Homo sapiens: one gene and its partners. The protein of the gene in region 1 interacts with the protein of each later gene in a biochemical or structural test. Each region holds a gene or a part of one and is shown on either strand. Other genes may lie near its edges.

Region 1 (7,051 bases):
TCCTAAAACTGACTTTGCTTGATACAGCAGCGATACCTCATTCTTACACAATGACATTAAAACTTAGGGAAAAAGGAAATACAGCTATAAAGTAAATGACAAAAACTTGAACCCACACACACTAACAAAACTGGTTTAGGGCCTCATTTTAAGGATTCTCACCCTTCCTTTTGCCCAAGAATCTTCTAGGCGGTTTACTAAAAAAGTGGCTGTCCTTTTTCAGACCTCGATTCAGGATTCAGCTTCAGATACGTGGAAACTAGACATTCCTAAAGATTCTCACCACCACATAAAACTAAAACAAGCTCTTTACTGCTCAGGATTACAGGGCAATTTCCAGCAATTACAGTCATTCAGGGATTCTAGGACCTGCCTGAACTGCACGAGACCCTTACTACTTCACACTCTCCATCTCCCCATTGGCTTTTGACATTTTCCCTGCTCAAGGGCCAAGCAGTATTTGAAAGGCTGAGGGAAAGATCGAGACATTAACTTCTCATGGACAGCTCTAATTAAAAAAGAAAATGAAAAACTTGTAGAGTAAGAAATCCATTTTCCTTTAAAAACTACAATTTATGATTAGCTGAGCCTCCTCCCATCACCAAAAGTTGGCATTCCCTCCACTCTACCCAGACGTTCCCTGTTCATAACACTGTTTCATCACGTCATATTATCATTGTGACTTCTTCCTCCACTAGAGGACAAGAGCTGTTTTGTAATCAGCACCCACCACCATCTCTATTACATAGTAGGTGCTTTAAATATGTTCACTGGCTTTTATTCTTGCCCTGTCTCCCAATGGATAATTAATATTCTATTGGATCTGTCCTGGCATAGGTAAAAAGTTATCTTATAGAAATCAGTTACCGGGTTATAGATGATATTCTGTAGGTTGTTTAAGGACAACATCATTCTTTTCCAGCTTCTTGTCGATTGGAGTCTCTTCTGTGTATGACCTAAGATTTTAGGCAAGTTTCATTTAAAGGTTACCTGGATTGAAACTGAGGCACTGGCCCTGTGTAAAGTAAAAATAGAGGAAAAGAAAAGTAAGCATGTAGCATTTTTCTTCATATCCTATTTTAAAATTTAAATTATATATTATGTTACTGATATTTACCAAATAATAGAATATTATTACAATCAACGATCTGCCTCCCATTCTTACCAGTGTGCTCATATACTAAATAATTTTGGATTGTGAGTGTAGGAAATATTGACTTAAAAAATACATCAGTAGAAAATTTCTAACATGGAATTTATTATTAAAAATACTAAAATAGGCCAGGCATGGTGGCTCACACCTGTAATCCCAGCACTTTGGGAGGCCAAGGCGGGTGGATCACCTGAGGTTCAGGAGTTAGAGACCAGCCTGACCAATATGGTGAAATCCCATCCCTACTAAAAATACAAAAATTAGCCAGACGTAGTGGCATGCACCTGTAGTCCCAGCTACTCAGGAGGCTGAGACAGGAGAATTGCTTGAACCTGGGAGACGGAGGTTGAAGTGAGCCGAGATTGTGCCACTGCACTCCAGCCTGGGCAACAGAACGAGACTCCATCTCAAAAAAAAAAAAAAATTTAATTAATTAATGGTAAATACTAATCAAACAGTCCCGTACAATTACCAGAGGTATTCATTTAGATTTTCATTTCCATAAAATGAGAATTACAGTATTCACATCATTGGTTTGTTCTGAGGATTGAGTTAATAAAACAGCGAAAGAGTAAGCGCTATGTTAGCTATTATTATTGTGAATAGAAAGAATTGCTCTTCCTCCTCCAATTTAAACAAATCAAAGTAGGGAAAAATCCAATACTTTTAATACTATTAAGATACGGTTTTCTCTGTTGCTTAAAAAAATAATAATCACAGGGCAGGGGAGTGTTGGAAAGCATCAGCCACATTTTTTAAGATAAAAGCACTCATGGACACTACACTACATTTAATAGCTCCAGGAAAAACTCGACTTTAAGCAGAACTAAAGGGGAAATGAAACCAGAGCTTCCTGTATTTTACTTCCAGCAATTCTGTCATTATACTGCACACCAACAATACACACCGATCAAATCTATCACTTTTTCTTTATTAAGAAAAAAAACTGTATCCCTCTTGGTTTACCACCTAAATATAGCCCCATGTCATTAACTTAATTCGTTAGTCAAAACCTCAAAACTCTGGCTCCGTGACTCAATTCAGGAAGTAAGAACAAGAGCAAAAAGAATGGATGCCGAGTTGCCATACACATGTATAATAACAAGCCAGTGACCCAATTTAAGCCATCTGCTTGCATTAAATCACGCAACCCCCGAAGTATCCCCAGGGACAGGTCCCGCCAGCATGAACACTTCGTATGCATCACAAGCAGCCATCACTTAAGTTTCACGTACGGTCAAAGGAAGTCACATGACTTGCGCTTTGCAATGTTTAACACTGCAGTCAAATGACTCGGCATCCTAAAGAGCGTGTTAGAGGCAGGGAACGCAATGGAGGTCACTCCACTGTCACTACAAATTCCGGGAAGGAAACTTCCCCAGATTCCTCCACTTGGAGGTGGCGCTCGGCCTCAGGCTAGGAGGGAACAGGTGAGAAAGCAGCCCAGGTGGGGTGGGTTTGCAGCGAGGAGACACCCCAGGGCAAACAGCCTGACCCCAGCCAGGGATGTCCAAGAAAGGCCGCGACTCCTGATAATCCCTTATGCCCCGGAGCGCCTCGCCTGCAGAGGCAGCGTCCCCGCCACCCAGCCCCGGCTCTGCCGCGGTGAGGACCGGCGGGTCGGGGTGGACTGGACACTGTCCCACCCATCAAATGGTGATTTAGGAGCCGTGACATCCGAATGCCATCCTCCACTGGCGAGACCCTCAGAGCAGCCACGCCTCTAGCGACTGCCCCGCCACCCGAGGCCGGGGGTCGCGCGACTCACCCAAAGACTGGTGTTTCAGGCGCTCCACGGAGCAGGTTGTTTGTCAGCAGCTAAGTGCCGTCAGGGTTCCCGGCTCTGGCGTCCGTGGGCGGCTACGGGAAGCGACAGGAGTCAGTCCTCGTTCACTTCCCGGCTCGCGCGCCTCACTGCTGTGGTCTCCCCACCCTCCCCGCGCCCCGCCTTCTGTGTCTGGGGCGTCCCTGGCGGCTCTGCTGGGTTTTGGACAGGGACCCGCCGCTGATCGCCACCCAGCTCGGCCTCCTGCACAGCCTCTGGAGCCTTGGACCGCGACTGGCTTGCTGTGGGACGAGCACAGAGGGATAAGGACAAAGAATGTGTCCTGGGTGGATCTGGCTGCCTTTGCCCGGAAGGCGGAGTGGGGTGGGAGGTGGTAGGAAAATGGGAAGGAAAGAAAAGAAAGGTGGGCCGACGTCCACCTGGCTGTTCCAGGCCTCCAGGTCTAGGAGGGAGGGCGCTCGGGGCTGGGACTTTTCAGGACCAGGGTGGTCACCGCACAGGCCCCGCCTGCCTGGACCAAGCGCTGGCCTTCCCGGGGCGCCCAGGTCCACGGGGTCAACGCCAGGGTTTTCTCAGCTTCCTCGTCTGCCTCGGATCCAAGTCCAGACAGTGCCAGAAGAGACTTGGAGGCGCTGCTTTTTGACAGTACACACCTCTGTATGCAGGTGAAACGGTGGGGGAAGGGTTCAGTACGCTGGACTGTGCCCAGCCCAAGCTCCCCATCCGTTAGTGATAACTTGGACTCGCAGCCACTCCGCGTCACTCGCCAGTTATCCTGCGTGTGGGTGTTTTCTCCAAATTGGACACTTAGGGAACAGTTTAAGCAGTATGGAGCACAATTCTGTGCCTATTAGATGCTCTTAAATACCCGACTTCTCAGGGCCCTACACTGACTGATAGTTTGACCTATTGGCTGTAAACACACCAGCCAGAAATACAAATAAAGTTAAACAAAGTCATGTCAGCCACTTGGAATGGCTGGCTGCTTACTGTTTATTTTCTGTTAGGGACCTCAAAGTTCTCATCTTCTCTACTTGGCTTTTATCCACATTTGTTTGGAAAGATATATTTTAGTGTCATTAACGTGGGCTTTCTCCTCCCTGGCTTTTGTTTTCATTATTTTTTGTTTTAATTGAGGAATTCATTACAAGTCCCATAACTGGGAACTCATGTTCTGATTCACTGTTGCTTTTCTCTCCTCCTTACCCATTTTCCAAGCCTGATGCACTTCTCAAGATCCAATCTGAATAGGTGAATTTACCCTTGACATACACTGCCTTGGATTTATAGCTGTCTTTTGGTATGTGTTGTGTGTTTTATCTATCCAACTCGACTGTAGTTTGAGAAAAGGAACTTGTCTTATACAGTCTCCAGTGCATAGTGTAATGCTTTGCATAAAATAGATATCAATGTTAGGTTGAAATGTTAGATTATTGATAAAGTCAGGAGCAATTGAATATCTTCACAATTCTGCCTGAGTCTCCCCCCAGCCCCGCCACTTTGAGACAGGGTTTCCCTCAAGTGATCCTCCCACCTCAGCCCCAGGAGTAGCTGGGACTATAGACGCACACCACTATGCCCAGCTAATTTAAAAATTTTTTTTTGTAGAGACAGGGTCCACTGTGTTGCCCAGGCTGGTCTCAAACTCCTGGGCTCACAATATCTTCCTGCCTTGGCCTCCCACAATGCTGAAATTACAGGCATGAGACACCAAGCTGGGCCCTGAGTCAACCTTGTACTTCTTTACAAAGCTAAAATAAGTTGAAATAAGTACACATAAATGCTGTGTTTCTTTTGTAAGTCATATTTAGGTGCAAACGGGGCTGAGTGAAAGGGCCAGAGAGCAGAGTTAACAAAGAAAATCTGGATTAAAATGTTCATAAATCCTAAGAACTTATTCCTAGAAATATCTCCCTCATTTGGCACTGTTGTTCAATTAGCCCAGTGTGTTATTTTAAATAAGCAAATATTCACTGAATGCCTATCATGGCCAGGCACAGCAGTAAAGAATACTAGCATGCAAAGGACCTCATGGGCCCTTCTAGATAGAGTCCCACATCTCTTACATTATTACTGCAGTATCCTAATCGGTCTCCCTATATTTGCCCTTGCCCCTCTGCAATGTAGTCTCAACACAACAGCCAGAGAAGTCATGACAAAACATAATTCAGATCATGTTAATCCCTTACTAAAACCTACTTTTTTTTTTTTTTGAGGCAGTCTCACTCTGTTGCCCAGGTTGGAGTGGAGTACAGTGTTACATTCTCAGCTCACTGCAGCCTCTGCCTACCGTGTTCAAGTGATTCATGTGCCTCAGCCTCCTGAGTAGCTGGGACTACAGGTGCGCGCCACCATGCCCAGCTAAGTTTTGTATTTTTAGTAGAGATGAGGTTTCACCATGTTGCCCAGGCTAGTCTTGAACTCCTGACCTCAAGTGATCCGCCCGCCTCGGCCTCCTGTAACCTGGGATTGCAGGTGTGAGCCACTGCATCCGGCCAACCGTCTACTAATTTTTGCTCATTCTTTGAGTAAAGATCCAGTTCTTACACGAGCACTTCCTGATCTGCCCGAATCCTCACACACTGTGATTTCATCTCCTACTACTTTCCTTCTCACTTTTTCTGCAGCAGCCACAGCGACTTTGCTATTCTCCTAGCAGGCCTGTCACACTCCCATCCTAAAATCTTTACTCAATATTTCCTTTTCCCTTTTCAAGTCTACTCAAATGTCAGTTCTCAGTGGGGCCCTTCCTGACCACCAATATTTAAAATTGCAAACACTCTCCCAAAACACACTCATACACACTCCCTAGCAACTCTTCCTTGCTTTATTTCTGGCTAACATTTGTCATGCTAATATACTATATAAGGTGCCTTTTTATTTTATGTTACTTCACCCATCATAAGACTATAAACTCCATGAGGGCAAGGAGTTTTGATTGTTCTTGTTTCGAGGAAGCTTATACTCTAGTTGAGGACACATACAGTGATGTGTTTTAGAGAAGATTAAATTGGGAGCACCTGAGTGGCAACCTTAGTTGGGTGACAAGGAAAGTCTCTCAGAGGAGTCAAAGTTTAAGCTGCTGGTGAGTGAAAGAAAGGAAACAGCCATATGAAGATGGTGGGGAAGAGCATTCCAGCCTTAGCGAGCAGCTGCTGCAAAGTCCCTGAGGGTCTTGAGAATGCATTAAATGTGTTCAGGAAACAAAGGCCACCAACCAGTATGGCTGAAGCATGAGGGAAGAATGATATGACATCATGAGATTGGATGGCACCACCTAGGAGAGTAGTGGGAGAAAATCACCTCGGACAGCCCTGGGGAGATAAGACAACGCCAATAAATGAGACTGAGAAGGGACAACCAGGGGAATTTGCTGAGAGTGGTGTCACAGATGCCAAAGAAAGAGAAACAGCCTGTGTGCCAAGTGTGCTGAGAGGCCAAGGAGGACGGAAGTAAGCAATGGGCTTAGGAACATGGATGTCATTGCTGACTCTGACTCTGAAGTGTGTTGAGAAATGGGAGGTGAAGAACTGGTGGAAACCATGACTATAAAGATTTCAGAAAGGTTTGCTGTGAGGAGGAATGGAGAAGCAGCATTATAGCTGAGGAAGGAGTGGAGCAAAGGGCAGATTCAGGTTTTCTCCTGTTGTTTTTTTTTTTTTTTTAAAGAGAAGATACTACATTGGTGACTTTTAGACTTCTTTTTTTTCAAGTGACCTGCCATAAGAATTACATTTCCATTGAGACTTACTACACACATACTTAAAATTACGAAAACAAAAATTTTGACCAGGCACGTTGGCTCACTCCTGTAATCCCAGCACTTTGGGAAGCCGAGGCAGGTGGATCACTTGAGGTCAGGAGTTTGAGACCAGCCTGGCCAATATGGTGAAACCCTGTTTCTACTAAAAATACAATAATTAGCTGGGCCTTGTGGCGCATGCCTGTAATTTCAGCTACTCGGGAGGCTGAGGCATGAGAATCGCTTGAACCCAGAAGGCCGAGGTTGCAGTGAGCTGAGATTGTACCACTGTACTCCAGCCTGGGCAACAGAGTGAAACTGTGTCTAAAAAAAAAAAAAAAAAAAAAAAAAAATTGTACAAAACAATACT
Region 2 (7,674 bases), on another chromosome or scaffold:
CTTAGAGACAGCCTATATTGGAACTCTCTAGACTCCATAATCAAGCAAATTAATTTTCCTGATGAATTCTGTCCCATGTAGAATCATGTATAGCTTGTGGACAGATGTATGTTCTGAGAAATGTGTCAGGTGTTTTTAGTTTTTTTTTGTTTTTTTTTTTTGAGACAGAGTATCCTTCTGTCACGCAGGCTGAAATGCAGTGGCGTGATCTCGGCTCACTGTAACCTCCGCCTCCAGGTTCAGAGCGATTCTCCTGCATCAGGTTCCCAAGTACCTGGGATTACAGGAACGTGACACTAGGCCTGGCTAATTTTTGTATTTTTTTAGTAGAGATGGGGTTTTGCCATCTTGGCCAGGCTGCACTTGAACTTCTGGCCTCAAGTGATCTGCCTGCCTTGGCTTTGCAAAGTGCTGGGATTCTAGGCACGCGCCACAGTGCCCAGCCCGGCGGTTTCATTGTTTTAATATGATAGAATATACCACACAAATCTAGATGGTATAGCCTACTACACCTATGGTATACACTATAGCCTATTGTTCCTACAATAGGCTACAAACCTGTACAGTATGTTCTGTACTGCATACTGTAGGCAACTGTAACACAATGATAACTATTTGTGTATCTAAACATAATTGAATACAGAAAAGGTACAGTAAACATATTGGTATTATAATCTTATGGGACCCCCATATGTGGTTTGTGGCTGACTCAAATGGCCCATGAATGTATCTGCACACATATATGTATACATCCTATGGTTCTGTCTGGAGAACCCTGACTAATATAAAAACTATAATCTTTGTTTTGGCAATTTTAAATCCTTTAGCATAAAGCAGCATAAAGCTGCTAGTTTTATATCACTTCTGAATTTAAGTGAAAGCAGTGAAAAATCTTAGAATTGCAAATATTTTCCAGAACTCATCTAAGACATTTTAAGAAATTTTTCACAGTTTAATAAGATTGAGACTCAAGTGAGATGACAATCACAATCACATACCATATTAGGTCTTATAAATTTACTTGTTCGAAAAATTGTGTTTTGATTTCTAAAGTAGGATATTTTGGGGAGCTTTCTCATTGTTTTAGTTTCACTATTTTGCATCGCTCATCATTACCTTACTAATTTAAAGTCATGTCTAAAACCTGAATGTTATGAAAGCAAATAACTTCATCATTCATTAATGTCTTCTCAATTCAATTTGACAATATTAATACACTCATTACATACATATACACACACACCTATGTGTACATATATGTATCAACTCCATATATTCATTATGAATACATATCTGTTGCAGCAAACACTAGATATTTTAAGTTTTTCAGAACTATATTAAACAATCATAGAAAGCACAAAATAACAACAATTAGTATCCTTATAATTCATAAAATCTATAGTAAGAACATGAGTTACAAATGGTATCATTGTGTAGATTTCAGATAATGAGATATTTTTAACACTCTAATTTATTATTGTGTAAAGGAAAGATGATATAATTTTATCAATATGTTTCACTCACCCTGGAGTTCTTTTAATGGTTCCCACAACGATTTTTCCAAAAATAATTTTGTTAAGTTCACCTCAAGATCAGAAGCTCATTCACTGCAGTACTGAATTTCAGAGGTCGCCAAAATGCAGTTCTAAGTGCAGTCCTTCTCCTTCAGAGAAAACTGAGCTTGTCTCTTCCGTGTCCTTTTATAAGAACCTGTGAAGACCACACCCACCTCTTTATGGGTATTTAGAGCATTCAGAAAGGTGGAGACAAAGATGATTAGGTTTATGCAGTATTTAGAACACACCTTTGCAGCTCTGATTAAATTATCATCACACTTTCATTCTGAACACCAGTGCCTGAATGAATCATATGTAACATAAATCCTGTCAGAGCATACATAGGCTAGAAATTAACTAAGATGCATTTTATACTGTTTATTGAGTTTCTTCCATGATACAGGCATTCCTCTAAGTGCACATTTATTTATTCTAGAGAAAGGGTCTCCTTCTGGAGTGCAGTAGCATAATCATAGCTCCCTGCAGCCTTGAATTCCAAGTAATCCTCCTGCTTCAGCCTTCCAAGTAGCTACGACTTTAGGCTCACACTATATCACCTGGCTAATTTTTTTTGTTGAAATTTTTGGTAAAGTCAGTGTATGACTCTGTAGCCCATGCTGTTCTCCAACTCCTGGCTTCAAGTGGTCCTCTGGTCTCGGCCTTCCAAAGTGCTAAGAGTACAGGTATAAACCACCTCATCCAGCTTAAATGCTGCTTTAGTACATTTATAGGATATTTCCAGAGAAGTCCAATGGAAGATAAAACTTTCCTTTTTGTTTTCTGTTTTCTACCACTCTAAGAGAAATCACTGATTAACCAAATAAACCCACTAACCTGGGGTCTCTCATTGAATTTACAAAACTTCACCAGTCTCATGGGTGAAAGATGAGTTATGATTTTAACGTTTTTCTCCATATAGTGCATGATGTCCTACAATGACTAGGAGTGCACCACGGGAATTATTTTGGGGATTACACATAACTTTTAGCATATAGGCAAATTCACAAATACAGAATCCAAATGATAGAGATGGACTATATTTTTCTTTCTATGCCAAGTCTTTTTGTTGTTATATGAAAATTATTTTTTTTAAAAAAGAGATTTCAGAAGGGACTACTCAAATATCTTCTGATAGAGGAATTCTTTGCCAATGGTCCAGAAGACTTATGGTCAAGACTGTCAAAACAGTGAAGACAAATCTATCAGACCCAGGTCTGTCCAGGTTCAAAGACAAAAGCAGAACCCATAAGATATATGTATAGTTAGGGAGATTCACATATGAATTAAGTGCAAAGACTTGACTTACCCAATTGTGGGAGCTGCTTAAGCAAATGTGAGATCCTGGGTACAGTCCATCAGGAAAAGAAATCCCCCGCTGGCTGGATCCCAGTGGTCATGAATCAAAGCTTTGGTTTAAAGTCAATAGGGGGCAACTGGAAGATTAGAGTCCCATTTGCCATTTAAAATGTTGTTCAAGGAATGCCTATGTGTTTCTTTAAAGGACTTTCACTGATGAAGTCAGGCTTACTTGGGTACACTTCCTAGTTACAGGATTAGGACCTTTGCTCGCATCTGCAAAATGCCTTTCCAGCAGGTCCTAAGTAAGTGTTTCATTGAAGAATAATAAGGTATGTCTATGCCACAAAATGGCTACTGCCCTCATTTCCCTCTTTGTACATACATGTACTCAAGTTGACACATCATAAAATCATCCAGAGTTTATATTTAATTAAATACAAGGAATTGAACAATAGATTTTCTTGTTCTATTGTCAGTTTACTATCCAAGACCACCAACTGACTGACCACCCTGTATGCACATTCTGTACCTCAATAAATCTAAGTAATTAACCAAAGTGTCCACACAGAAGTAAGATCTGCGCTGGTTGTGTGTGGGGGCCCTCTTGGCTCAGTCCTGGACTCCAGAGTGGGAAACTTGTGAAACCCTGGGTCATGGACTTGATCCTGTGGACATTCTCTGCTTAAATTCTGGAGCTCCGTGGCGGGGCCCTGGTACTCCATTACAAGGTCTGATGATGCTGTGTATCAGGAAGGAATTAGGGCAAGGAGAGAAAGGAAGGTAGGTAGCTTCTGATTTTATTTCAACCACTTTTTGCACCACATCATTCACTTATTCAAACACTCAGCTTTAGGCAGTTGAAGCCTAGAGCACTGGAAATTAGGAGCTTTCAATTACAGACCTACCTCTGTCTACTGTGGCATTATCAAGGAAACAACCTATTTTCCTACTTGAGTCTCAGACCATGAAACAAATATAAGAAAGTAATTCTCTTTAGAGTTGGCATTTTGTAGGTTCCAAAAGTCCTACCCAATCCAGAAGAGAGAGTAGAGGTGGGTATAGGCAAGAACAATCCGTGATGTGGATAAAGGACACTCCAGCCAATTTGGAATATTTCCTTATTTCCCAGTGCTTCTCCTTTTAATAAAAAAGATACTTTTTTGTACATGAGACTGTTTCCATTCTAGCATCTGAAACCTACCTCTACCACAAAGTTTTCTGTTGAATTACACATCTATTTTTGAGAATCTGGTAATAGACTCTTTTGTTCATCTGGGTTCTAAAACTCATTGGAAAATCTTTGTATGAAAGTTGGTGATCTATTTCTCGTTCCTTAACATATGTAGAAATCTGACTTTATTTAATTCTGGAAATTTTTAAATTTTTATAAAAATGCCATTCTATGATAAATACCATTTAAAACCTAGGTATTATAACTACTTTGACATTTTGTTTGTTTTATTTGCGCACATGGAGAGAATTCTGCATATTTTTTCCCATGCTAACAAAATTTATTAATTTTCCACAAATTTATATTTTGCTTTGTGGATCCTGAATGTCCAGGGCTATCTTTTCTTTAACGCTTTTTTTTTTTTTGGCATTTCTTCTCAATTGTTTTACCCGTTTATTGTCTATTTTTCTACAAACCCCAGTCATTTTCTCTTGAAACCTCTTATCTATTTGAGTGGAGAGAAATATGTTAGAAAAAGGAAGGGGACAATGTGATACATGGGCTATGATGTACCAGTTACTGTGCTGTCTCCATGCACACATTGTTCCTAATCTCCACAGAAAACATGCAATATGTGTAGCATTGTCCCAACTTTACATATGAGCACATAAAAGGTAAGCTTTTCGTTGTTGTTGTTGAGTCCGAGTCTCACTCTGTCGCCCAGGCTGGAGTGCAGTGGCGGCGTGATCTTGGCTCACTGCAAGTTCCACCTGCCGGGTTCACTCCATTCTCCTGCCTCAGCCTCCCGAGTAGCTGGGACTACAGGCGCCCGCCACCATGCCCGGCTAATTTTTTTGTACTTTTAGTAGAGACGGGATTACACTGTGTTAGCCAGGATGGTCTCAATCTCCTGACCTCGTGATCCGCCCGCCTCAGCCTCCCAAAGTGCTGGGATTACAGACGTGAGCCACCGCGCCCGGTCGTAAGCAATCTTTTTATGGTCCTGTTTCCTGTATGGGATGGATTCAGGGATCAATTACATGTCGTCAACTCCATAAATCCTCAAATCTCTCAACGTATTTTCTCACTTAGAGCCACAGAAACACATATGATTCCTTCTGTGCTTGTGTGTTCAGGTGAGGTTCAGCCTACATTCTGAAGTTTCTTCCTCTGATGAATGAAACATTGAGTTCTTGAATATAGCTACATTATCATTAGGCTGTAAAAATCAGAATCAAATAGGTTTCCTTCCTTGAGAAAATAATGGAGGCAACAGTTACAAACAGCACTCTAGGTTTTAGATTTCAATCATGTTTTTCCTTTTCTATTCTTTTTTCTTTTCTTAGAGACAGGGTCTCACTCTGTCATCCAGACTATAGAGCAGTTGCTGGATCATAGCTACTGCAGCTTCAACCTCCTAGGCTCAAGTGATCCTCAACCTCGGCCTCCTGAGTAGCTCTGACTACAGGCAGACACCCGCACTTCAGGTTAGTTTTTAAATTGTTTGTGGAGATATGGTCTTCTTATGCTGTTCTGGCTGGTCTCAAACTCCTGGACTCAATCCTCCTGCTTCGACCTTCCAAGGCACTGGGATTACAGGCGTGAGCCACGGTTCCCAGCCTCGAAGCATTTTCATAGCAAAGAGTTAACAGAACATTTTCTTCTCTAGATTCAGTAGACACAAGATTCTTATATTTTATTCTTCCCATATCTGGCTGTGTATCCTGTTCGCAGACATTACATTGCCAAATTTGTTTTCCATTCATCTTTCCTAGCACAGTATAGAAAAACGAGTACTGTGGAGTAGAGTTTTCACATTCTTTCCTGAACCCTGCCAGTTCTAATGGTGCTCATGGACTTAGCCATTTCCCTTCACTGGAATCCATTCTTGTTTATAAACAACAGTAAGTGTTGTTTATAAAATTTCCAAGGAACAGAGCAGAATGTAAGGTTAGCATATCTTGTGTTTTTACCTCCCCTAAGCCCAAAGGATCATGAGTACTACATACAGAAATCTTTCCTCCTTACCCCTGTCACATTCTACTTGGATGCTGTGGAGAAATAAACCCAGTGTATCCCCTTCTGCTATACAAAATAATACTATTTGGCTTAAACTGATGTTTGTAAAATTTCATCCACAGATTTCAGTCACATTTTCAAATAAATCCATTATAAAACCATGTAATACAAGTTGACTGTTTGTTATTCACAATGTTAGGGCCAGAAGAATTTCAGGTTTTGGATATTTGTGGATTACAGAATATTTGCATAGACATAATAAGATATCTTGTGTATCAACCCAAGTGTAAACACAAAATTTATGTTTCATATACACCTTATACAGATAGGCTAAAGATAATTTTAGACAATATTTTAAATAACTTTATTCATGAAGCAAAGTTTGTGTACACATGCCATTTTATTACCCTTTGTGAGTGCTCTTGCTCGGGGGCATCTAGGTGGACACAGAAAGATATATTGCAACTGAAGGGGCTGGGAGAGTCTTTTGTTCACTGAGAATATGTTTTGACTGTAACTTCTCATATGAGGTCACGTGTGGGATATTTCACTTTTGGTGACATTTCACAGCTCAAAACATTTGAGATTTTGGAGTATTTTGGATTTTTAGATATTTTGATTAGTGGTGCTCAACCTGTATGTTATTTCATCTTTTTTTTCTCCAGGTAGGAATGGAAAATGCATTTTTGTTTTTACTTGTATTACACATTTTTTCCAACTCAAATTCATTATGCATATTGTTAGATGTCTTCAAATTTTGATGAAAAGTCTCAAGTTATATCAATTACTATTTTCAAAAATTGTTTGTAATAAGTAGATTAAATACCATGATAATCCACAGTTAAAAAAATAAACACAAATTCATGTGCTTGTATTCCAGTTGGGTTTTTTTTCCAAACGATGAGCATTAATGAAATACTATACCTTAAAACCTTTTTCTAAATATATTTGAGAATATTGTTTGAAAGTAAAAAATTGAAAAGGACTGAACATACCATAATAAATGATATTTGTGCTTAAGAAGGCTGTCTTTTTCAGAGATTATTTATAAAATAAAAATACACATTTCTAACCTTGTCTCAGTTAAGAGCTTGTTACTGATGTGTTACTTATGATGTTGAATGTTGTTAGTCTAACAGGATGCACTGGTAATAGGACCCTGTCAAGCTGAACTTTCCCGATTTAAATGCTACCTCACCATTCCTGTGCAGTATGTTTTTATTAGAATTCTAGCAGTATGTATTTTATATTGTGACCTAAATAACAAGCACACACAAAAATGATTTCACACTGTGTATGCCGATGTATTTTAAAGTCTATGAAAAATATTGTAGGTATCAGCAAGTAGAACACTGCTTCATACATAGAAAGGGACCAATTAATGCTAAGTAAATGTTATTAGTTACTTAAAGAACTTTGCATTATGTAAATACATCCAAATCAATTATTATTTGGATGGTAATATGATAGCAAACCTAGATGCAGATTTAAGAAGAATATTGAGCAAGAATGGGTTAGGAGGGTGTGAGGAGTAGGCCACAGAGAAAGTTAATACCTATAATTTGCTGAGTCAGAGTTGAAAGCACCTATAGGCTAAGTGGATACCTCCCATTCTGACCCATTTCAGCA
Region 3 (7,825 bases), on another chromosome or scaffold:
CCTCAGTCTGAGCATTTGGGTTCCACCTGTGGTTGCATGCTTGGTTTATCTAGGCATGTTCAGGCTATGTGACCTTTAGCCCCGGGGGGCTGTGGCAATTGAAAAACAGCTCACAACTATGACACTTAAAAGTTAAACCAGATGAGTCCGCTGAGGTTATAACATCTTGTTTTTGTTCTACCTGTGAGTTAGTTACTCACATGGACTCTGGAGCCCAAAAGAGGTCTGATCTATAGTTAATGTTAGGACTTTGTCAGCTAGGAAACTGGATGGGATTATCTAGGAAGGGGATTTAGAGAAAATGAGATAATAGGAAAGAAACAAACAAAAAGCTATATTTAAGTGACTAGCTTGATTTTCTTCAAATTGACTAGAATGTGAATATATGCACAGCAAAATTCATGTTTTATTCATCGGTATTACTCCAGAGCCCTGCCAAATGCTTGGTACTTCATTATAGTTAATAATGCTACCTATCACTCACTGACGAGCTATTGTGTTTCAGGGACTGTCCTAAGTACTCCACATATACTTGCATATTTAGTCTTCACAATAACTCTATGCAGTAGGTATTTTACAGATAGGGAAACTGAGGCCCAAGAGAGGTTAAGTAACTTGCCCCAAATCATACAGATGGTAAGTAAATGAGCTAGGATCTGAATCTTGGCAAAACTGGTTCCAGAGTCCATCATCTTAAATACCATCTTAAATACCGTGCTATATGACATATATAGTTTAATATGTGTCTGCTGAAAAGAAAGAACAAAACAAATTTTTAAAAAGAAGGAAGGAAGAAAATATAAAATATCAAAGGAAAGATGGGGCCAGGCGTGGTGGCTCACACCTGTAATCCCAGCACTTTGGGAGACTGAAGTGGGTGGATCGCTTGAGTCCAGGAGTTTGAGATCAGCCTGGGCAACATAATGAAATCCTGTCTCTACAAAATACACAAAAATTTACCCGGCACGGTGGTGTATGCCCTTAGTCTCAGCTACTTGAGAGGCTGAAGTGGGAAGATCACTTGAGCCCGAGAGTTTGTGGCTGAAGTGAGCTGAGATTGTGCTACTACATGCCAGCCTGGGCAACAGAGTGAGATTGTCTCAAAAAAAAAAAAAAAAGAAAAAAGAAAAAGAAAAAAGAAGAAAAAATGAGAGGAAAGTAGGGAAAACAAGAAGGATGGAAAAAAGAGAGGGAGGAAAGGACCAAAAAAATGCATTAATTAGGTCCATGTTTGATGATCAGAAGCATCTGAAAACAAAATTGGTGGCTTGTTTCTCCTACATCCCTAAGCCTCTGGAACAAGAGGTGTTTCTCCCTGAAATTTGTTTTCATTTGGTTTTACTGAAGTTCTTCCTGTAATCAGATGTTAACAATTATCTTTCAGAAAATCCAGTTAGGCCTATCCTGAATTCTCAAGCATAAACTACCCTGATTCTTAATCTTAGCCTTGCAATATCTACTTTTTTCTTTTCTTTTGTTCCCATCAGCTCCCAGCTGGTAGTAATGAGTTAAGAAGGGTTTTCCATGAGAGGGGCAGAAACATTTCTGACAACAGGAATCATCTAACACTGCTTTCAAACAAGTTGTACTGAAAAAATATACTAGAGATTTTTTTCACAGGAAGTCTCTCTCCTGTGAATATATTAGAGATTTCCTCAAAGAAAATATATTCGAGCATATTAGAGATTTGCTCACAGAAAATCTATCTCCTGAGTTTGTATTTTTTTTATCACTATTTGGCTATGAGAATATTCTGTGACCCTTGTCATGGTCCTGTTTGCTTTTCCTGAAACCTCTTTCCTATCAAATGTTAATATCCACTTATTGCTATTAAGAAATCTTGACACCTCAACCTGTGCACTAAACAATATTCCTGGTATATACTGAGTATTTAATATTGAGTATTGTAATAATAACAGGCTGGCTCTGTTGATACCACCCTGAGTCTAGAACTGCAGCAGTGGGTCCTGAGTCTAGAACTGCAAGTACTCTGAGTATTCAGGAACTTGGGGCTGTCAGCAAATCTGTGCCCTCTTTACCTTCAAACCTGTCCTACTGGATGCATCATATTACCCCACCAAACCTCTGGATCCCACATACTTGGTTCCCTTTTAACACTAACAGTATTCCACTGTATTGGGTATACCACTTGTTTTTCAATACATTTAATACTTGATGAACAGTTGGGTTGATTCCATTTTTTAATATGAGTAAAACTGCTATGGACATTTGTGTACAAATCTTTGCACGGATATGTTTTCATTTCTTTTGAGTAGATTCCTACGAGTGGATTTGATGGATTATGTGGTAAATTTATATCTAACTTTTCGAGACCCCTTGAATTATTGCCAAGTACCTTCATTTCTTCTCAACCGTCAGAATGCCCAATCTCCCTGTTCAAGATGAGAAATTATAGAGAAAATAAAAACTGCCTTGGTTAGCAAACAAAAAGGAAAAATTCTGCACACTGAGAAACAGTCTTTCATTCTGTTTTTTGTTTTCTTTTTTGTTTTGAGACTGATTATCACTGTGTTGCCCAGGCTAGAGAGCAGTAGCAGGATCATGGCTCACTGCAGCCTCAACCTTCCGGGCTCAAGTGATCCTCCCACCTCTCAGCCTCCCAAGTAATTGGGACTACAGGCACGTACCGCTATGCCTGGCAATTTACTTATTTTTTTTAGACAGGGTCTTACTATGTTGCCCAGGTTGGCCTCAAAATTGTGGATTCAAGCTATCCTTCCACCTCGGCCTCCCAAAATGCTGGGATTACAAGCGAGCCAACATGCCCAGCCAACATCCTTTTTTTTTAACTGAGCCTACTAGCCCCAGAAATGAAGCCCTATGCTGACAAGACTATGGAGCCTGTAAGTTACTTCCATTTATATCAGCTCTTAGAAAATGGCCTGAGAAGGGACTCTGGGTTGGGCTTCTCCATCCCTTTTCCAATATTTCTAACCCTCTGGGTGTCAATCATACCATTTTGTATTCCAAGGGACTTAAATGTTGGCTGGGCCAGTGGCAGGGTGGTGTCCATACTGGGCAGTTTGGGTGGGGTCAGGAGAATTTCAGAGCATAAGCAGGCTTTGACCTGAAGCGTCATCCAGGGGCAATATGGAGGCAGCCATACCTAAAACCGTTGTGAAGAAAGCTACACAAAGGGTGATCTGAAATAACCTTTGCGTGGCTTCTTAAGCCTGCAGACATGAGGTAGTCACTGAAATAGTGACACATGTCTGCACTTACGAGATTCCAATGACCTTTCATTTGCCTGGGGACTGTCCAGAGAAATCTCTTGATACTTAACCCAGCTCTCTCCCTACTGCCCAATCCTCCGTCCAGACTTTTGTATGGACACCCCAGTCCCTTCTCTCTCTATACCTCCCTCCCCAAGCCACCTTCTAAGGCAAGGTGATACTCACCTAATCAGTCTCCTTAGGGAGGAACTTTGACATTCTTTTTCTTCTCAGAGTTTCTGTGCTATTGAAACCCTGTAGTTAGAGTTCTGAGGCTCAATAAGCTTTACATGTATTCATCAGACCTAAATAAAAACAAAGATTGTCTTCTAGTTATATAGGTCAAAATTACAGATACACACACACAGCTTTATACATACATACGTGTAATTTTAAACTGATGAATTTTAATGATCGTTTGGCAAAACATGCCATTATGCAAAGGGGCTTTTACTCGTATAACTTTATATGTTTATTTAGACATTTTAATTAATACGTCTATATGGAGTACAGGTGTATTATCAGTGTAATTAAACTCTGATATGATATTAGAAAGCTACAGTACACTGCAGACAATTTACAAGGGTCATCTCTGGCCTGGTGTTCTCAAAGGCCTCCGGATTTGCCGTTCATCAGGTAAGATGAACAGCTTTGCGTTGCTACCTTCAAAAATTCTTTTTTTTTTTTTTTGAGAGAGAGTCTCGCTCTGTCTCCAGGCTGGAGTGCAACCTCCACCTCCCGGGTTCAAGCGATTCTCCTGCCTCAGCCTCCCGAGTAGCTAGGACCACAGGCGCGCCCAGCTAATTTCTGTATTTTTAGTAGAGACAGGGTTTCATCATGTTGGCCGGGATGGTCTCAATCTCCTGACCTCGTTATCCGCCCGCCTCGGCCTCCCAAAGTGCTGGGATTACAGGGGTGAACCACCGCGCCTGGCCTCAGAAACCATCTCCATCTCCCTTACCACCTGAGGGGTCACTGGTGACCACACCCATGGAATCGGCTGGATCTCCTGCGGGGCTGGACAATTTGACCCTCCTCCTCCCCAGGCCCCGCCCCTTCCCCCCTGAGTCTTTCGGCCTGGGTGGAGGACGCGGCTGCTTCAAGTCCTTGGCTCTGATCCAGGCCACAGATTCCAGGTTAGTGAGCAAGTTTATTTTCTGGCCAGCTACCGCTGTCCCCACTTGTCTGGAGAGTTTGACCCGCTCTGCAGGTCGGGTTGGGGGTGGTTCACGGGTGAAAGAAGAATGAGGGAGACTTCTGCATTTTCAAGTGAACTCAAGTTTGGGAAGGGAGCACAGAAGAGGCACCTTTGCAGCTGGGAATAGGCCGTGTAAAGAGAGTTAAACCTCTATTCTACAAGCTGAAGTATGTAGAGGAGGCAGCTCTGGAAACTGCTTTAGGGAATCACTGCAAACCATTTTGTCAGGCGTGGATTCAGAGTCAGCATCCCTTCCCCCCTTCCCCCGTTCTCCCCTTCCCCCCTTCCCCCTTCCCCCTTCCCCCTTCCCCCTTCCCCTCCCCCATCTCCAGCCTGGCCGCTCCAGGAAGTGAGCACCGTTTATCCCCCACCCCAGGCGGCCCGACTCCTCCCAGAAGGAGTTGGGAGATGAGCCTTCCGCAAACTCCTGACCTGTGGGTCCGTCCGTTCAACGGCCAAAGGCTGGCGGAGGAGGGATCCCCTGCCTTTCTCGGAACGGAACGGAGCAGAGTCGTGCGTGGTTGAGTTTAGATAAAAGCCGAGTGAGCGCGCTCTGTTCCTTAAGATTAGTTTAAGGTGCCTTGGATTGCTCTGAAGAGCTTTGACCACCTGATATTGCTTACATCTGGAACTTCTTGGCTTCTCATTCCCCAGATGTGCGGGTCAGAGAGGTATGTCTACCGTTCTGTTGACTGGCTCTTATTGTCACTTCTGGCAGAGGTGACAGGGCAGTGAAAGAGATAAGGTCCTTTCCCTTTCGGAACTCATTATATCTTTATTTCTTTTTCTTTCTCACTGCAAATGACCCCACTGAGGTTAGAGACATTTTAATCAGTCAGTCAATAGAGACAGAAATGTGTGGTTAGGAGCATAGATGCCGCAGCCAGACTGCATGTGTTCAAATCCTGACTCTGACAGACACTGGCTGTGTGCCCGAAGACTGTTAACTTGACTTCTTTGAGCTTTAGTTTCTTCCATCTATAAGATGGACGGAGTAATATGTATATCTTAGAGTTTTGGTGAGGATTGAGTGAGACAGATTTAAACACGTAGGAGGCTGCCTGACACAAATTATGGTCATTATTACTGGCAAACTCCATGCCTAGCTTTAAAAAAATGCACAATCAAAACAATTTTTAAATTATAGGTTTCTGAAATGCAGGGGGTAGAAATTCTTTTGAAGTGGAAATTAAATTTTTTGTTTTGAAACTGATTATGTTCCAATTCAAATATTTATTGAGTCCTGTTAGATAATCAATTGCAGATAATAGGTTAAATATAACCCTACACAAAGATAAAAAAAAATGTTATTCCTAAAGTGCAAGAACTCATGCCCAACTCACTTATAAATGCAACTGCCACCTATTTTATTCCACTTTCACTAGGGCTCCCAGCTGGTGGACGGGCCCGCTCTGTCATTCCTAACTCTGAACCCCCAGCCTACACCAGCCCCAGTATCCCCTGCTGAGTCACTGATTTTTATTCTGAAAGCCATTTTGATATCGATGCAAGCTTCCATTCTAAAAGATGCTTCGTATCTAAATAGCAGGCCATTCTCTGTCCCCCTCCCTCTTCTAGCTGTTTTGCACCCTAAATTGTATCCACCTGGGAAAGAAGGTCCTTTATCTAAGGCAGTGCTTCTGAAGCCTTAATGTGCGTAAGAATCACCTAGAGAACTTTAATATTAAAGTGCAGATTCTGAATCATTCCAGGAAAGACTGAGATTCTGCATAAAGAACTCCAAGTGCTTGCAGTGTTGCTAGTTAGCAGACCTTTTTCAGGCGTCTGGTTCTGATTTAATTGGTCCCACCTGGTTGTGAATTTGGGCTCTTTCTTCTGCTAATTTGATGCACTGGGCTCTGGGACTGCAGGCTCTTCTCGTCTGCACTCCTCACAGTCAGAATGCCTTCTCTCAGCCCGTCCACACTGCTCTGGAGACTTGGCCTCAGTTGGAAACTGGCAGCCTCCCATATCTCCCTTGGGCTGCACTTAGCTGCAGTGGGCAGTCAGGGCTTGCTGGTGTGTGGGCAAGGGTCACCTATGCTAACTGTATGCTCCCCTCCTTCACAATTTCTTTCCCAAGCCTCAGCTTTGACAAGAGACCTCAACTCTTACAAATCTTTTTTCTGCTCAAGAATTTTTCTCTGTCTAAAGAGAGTATTAGATGAATATCTACAGCGCATATTAGATAGGAAAAAGACATATAATGAACTAGAAATAGAATGAAGCCACATATGTAATGTTACATACTCAAGTAGCCTCATTAAAAATAAGCGGGTGAAATTAATTTTAATACATTTCATTTAACCCAATACATGCAAAATACAATTAGGACATGTGATCAACATAAAAAAATTAATAAGATCCTTTAACTTTTTTAAACTAAATCTTCAAAATCCAATGTGTATTTTGTACCTAAAGCAACCCATTTCTGAGTAGCCACACTTCAAATGCTCAAGAGCCATATCTGGCTACATGTTTGACAACACAGTTCCATTATGCTTAGAAGATCAGAAACCAAGCTTTTAATTTTTCTTGTATTTTTTTGTTTCTGTCAGTTTATTGAGTTCTATCTAGTAAGTTACAAATTGTAAGCATACAGTTCTGTGAATTTTCACAGTTGCAGTCAGCTGTGTAACCACCACCATGATCATGATACATAAAGGGCATTTCCCTTTATGTATTCACCCTTCAAATTTCCTTATGCCCTTTGCAGTTCAAACTTTTCTCCCACTCCTGGGCCCTGGCTTCCACTGATGTACTTTCAAATACCATAGCTTTCTCTTTTCTAGGATTTCACATAAATAGCATCATACAATAACTTAAATTTGATGTTTGGGTTCTTTCACTTTGCATGCTTTTGAGATTTATCTTGTTGTATATATTAACAGTTTAATTGTTTGGTAATATGCCACTGTATGGATACACCACAGTTTGTTCATTTACCAGTTAGTGATGTCATGGATTCTTTTCAGTTTGGGACTATTACTACATTGCATTTATGAGGCAGTAGTTCTCCTTCAAGAGAATTGGGTACGCTAAATACAGTTTTGCCTGAAATGAAAGTGTGCATGTGTTTGTTGGGGAGGATGAATTGGAATTGGACTTTCAATTAAAATATAATACCAATACAATTATTATATTTATTTATTTATTTATTTATTTATTTATTTATTTTGAGACGGAGTCTCGCTCTGTCGCCCAGGCTGGAGTGCAGTGGCACGATCTCGACTCACTGCAAGCTCCACCTTCCGGGTTCACGCCATTCTCCTGCCTCAGCCTCCCGAGTAGCTGGGACTACAGGCATCCGCCACTACACCCAGCTAAATTTTTGTATTTTTAGTAGAGACAGGGTTTCACCGTGTTAGCCAGGATGGTCTCGATCTCCTGACCT

Evidence for each region. The genes of interacting proteins can lie anywhere in the genome.
Region 2: the proteins of LGALS8 (region 1) and TRIM49 form a complex in vitro, tested with the Homo sapiens proteins (one study listed by BioGRID).
Region 3: the proteins of LGALS8 (region 1) and TRIM6 form a complex in vitro, tested with the Homo sapiens proteins (one study listed by BioGRID).

What each region holds. Positions count from the first base shown.
Region 1 is NC_000001.11:236,519,932-236,526,982, reverse strand, and holds the start of LGALS8 (galectin-8), read right to left. Parts: upstream 3,002-7,051; 5' UTR 2,922-3,001; exon of another isoform or gene 2,475-2,921; intron 1,016-2,474; 5' UTR 913-1,015; coding exon 868-912; intron 1-867.
Region 2 is NC_000011.10:89,805,575-89,813,248, forward strand, and holds the start of TRIM49 (tripartite motif-containing protein 49), read right to left. Parts: upstream 3,002-7,674; 5' UTR 2,863-3,001; intron 1,711-2,862; 5' UTR 1,525-1,710; intron 1-1,524.
Region 3 is NC_000011.10:5,591,813-5,599,637, forward strand, and holds the start of TRIM6 (tripartite motif-containing protein 6), read left to right. Parts: upstream 1-4,824; 5' UTR 4,825-5,085; coding exon 5,086-5,102; intron 5,103-7,825. Other genes in the region: TRIM6-TRIM34 (tripartite motif-containing 6 and tripartite motif-containing 34), read left to right, coding at 5,086-5,102.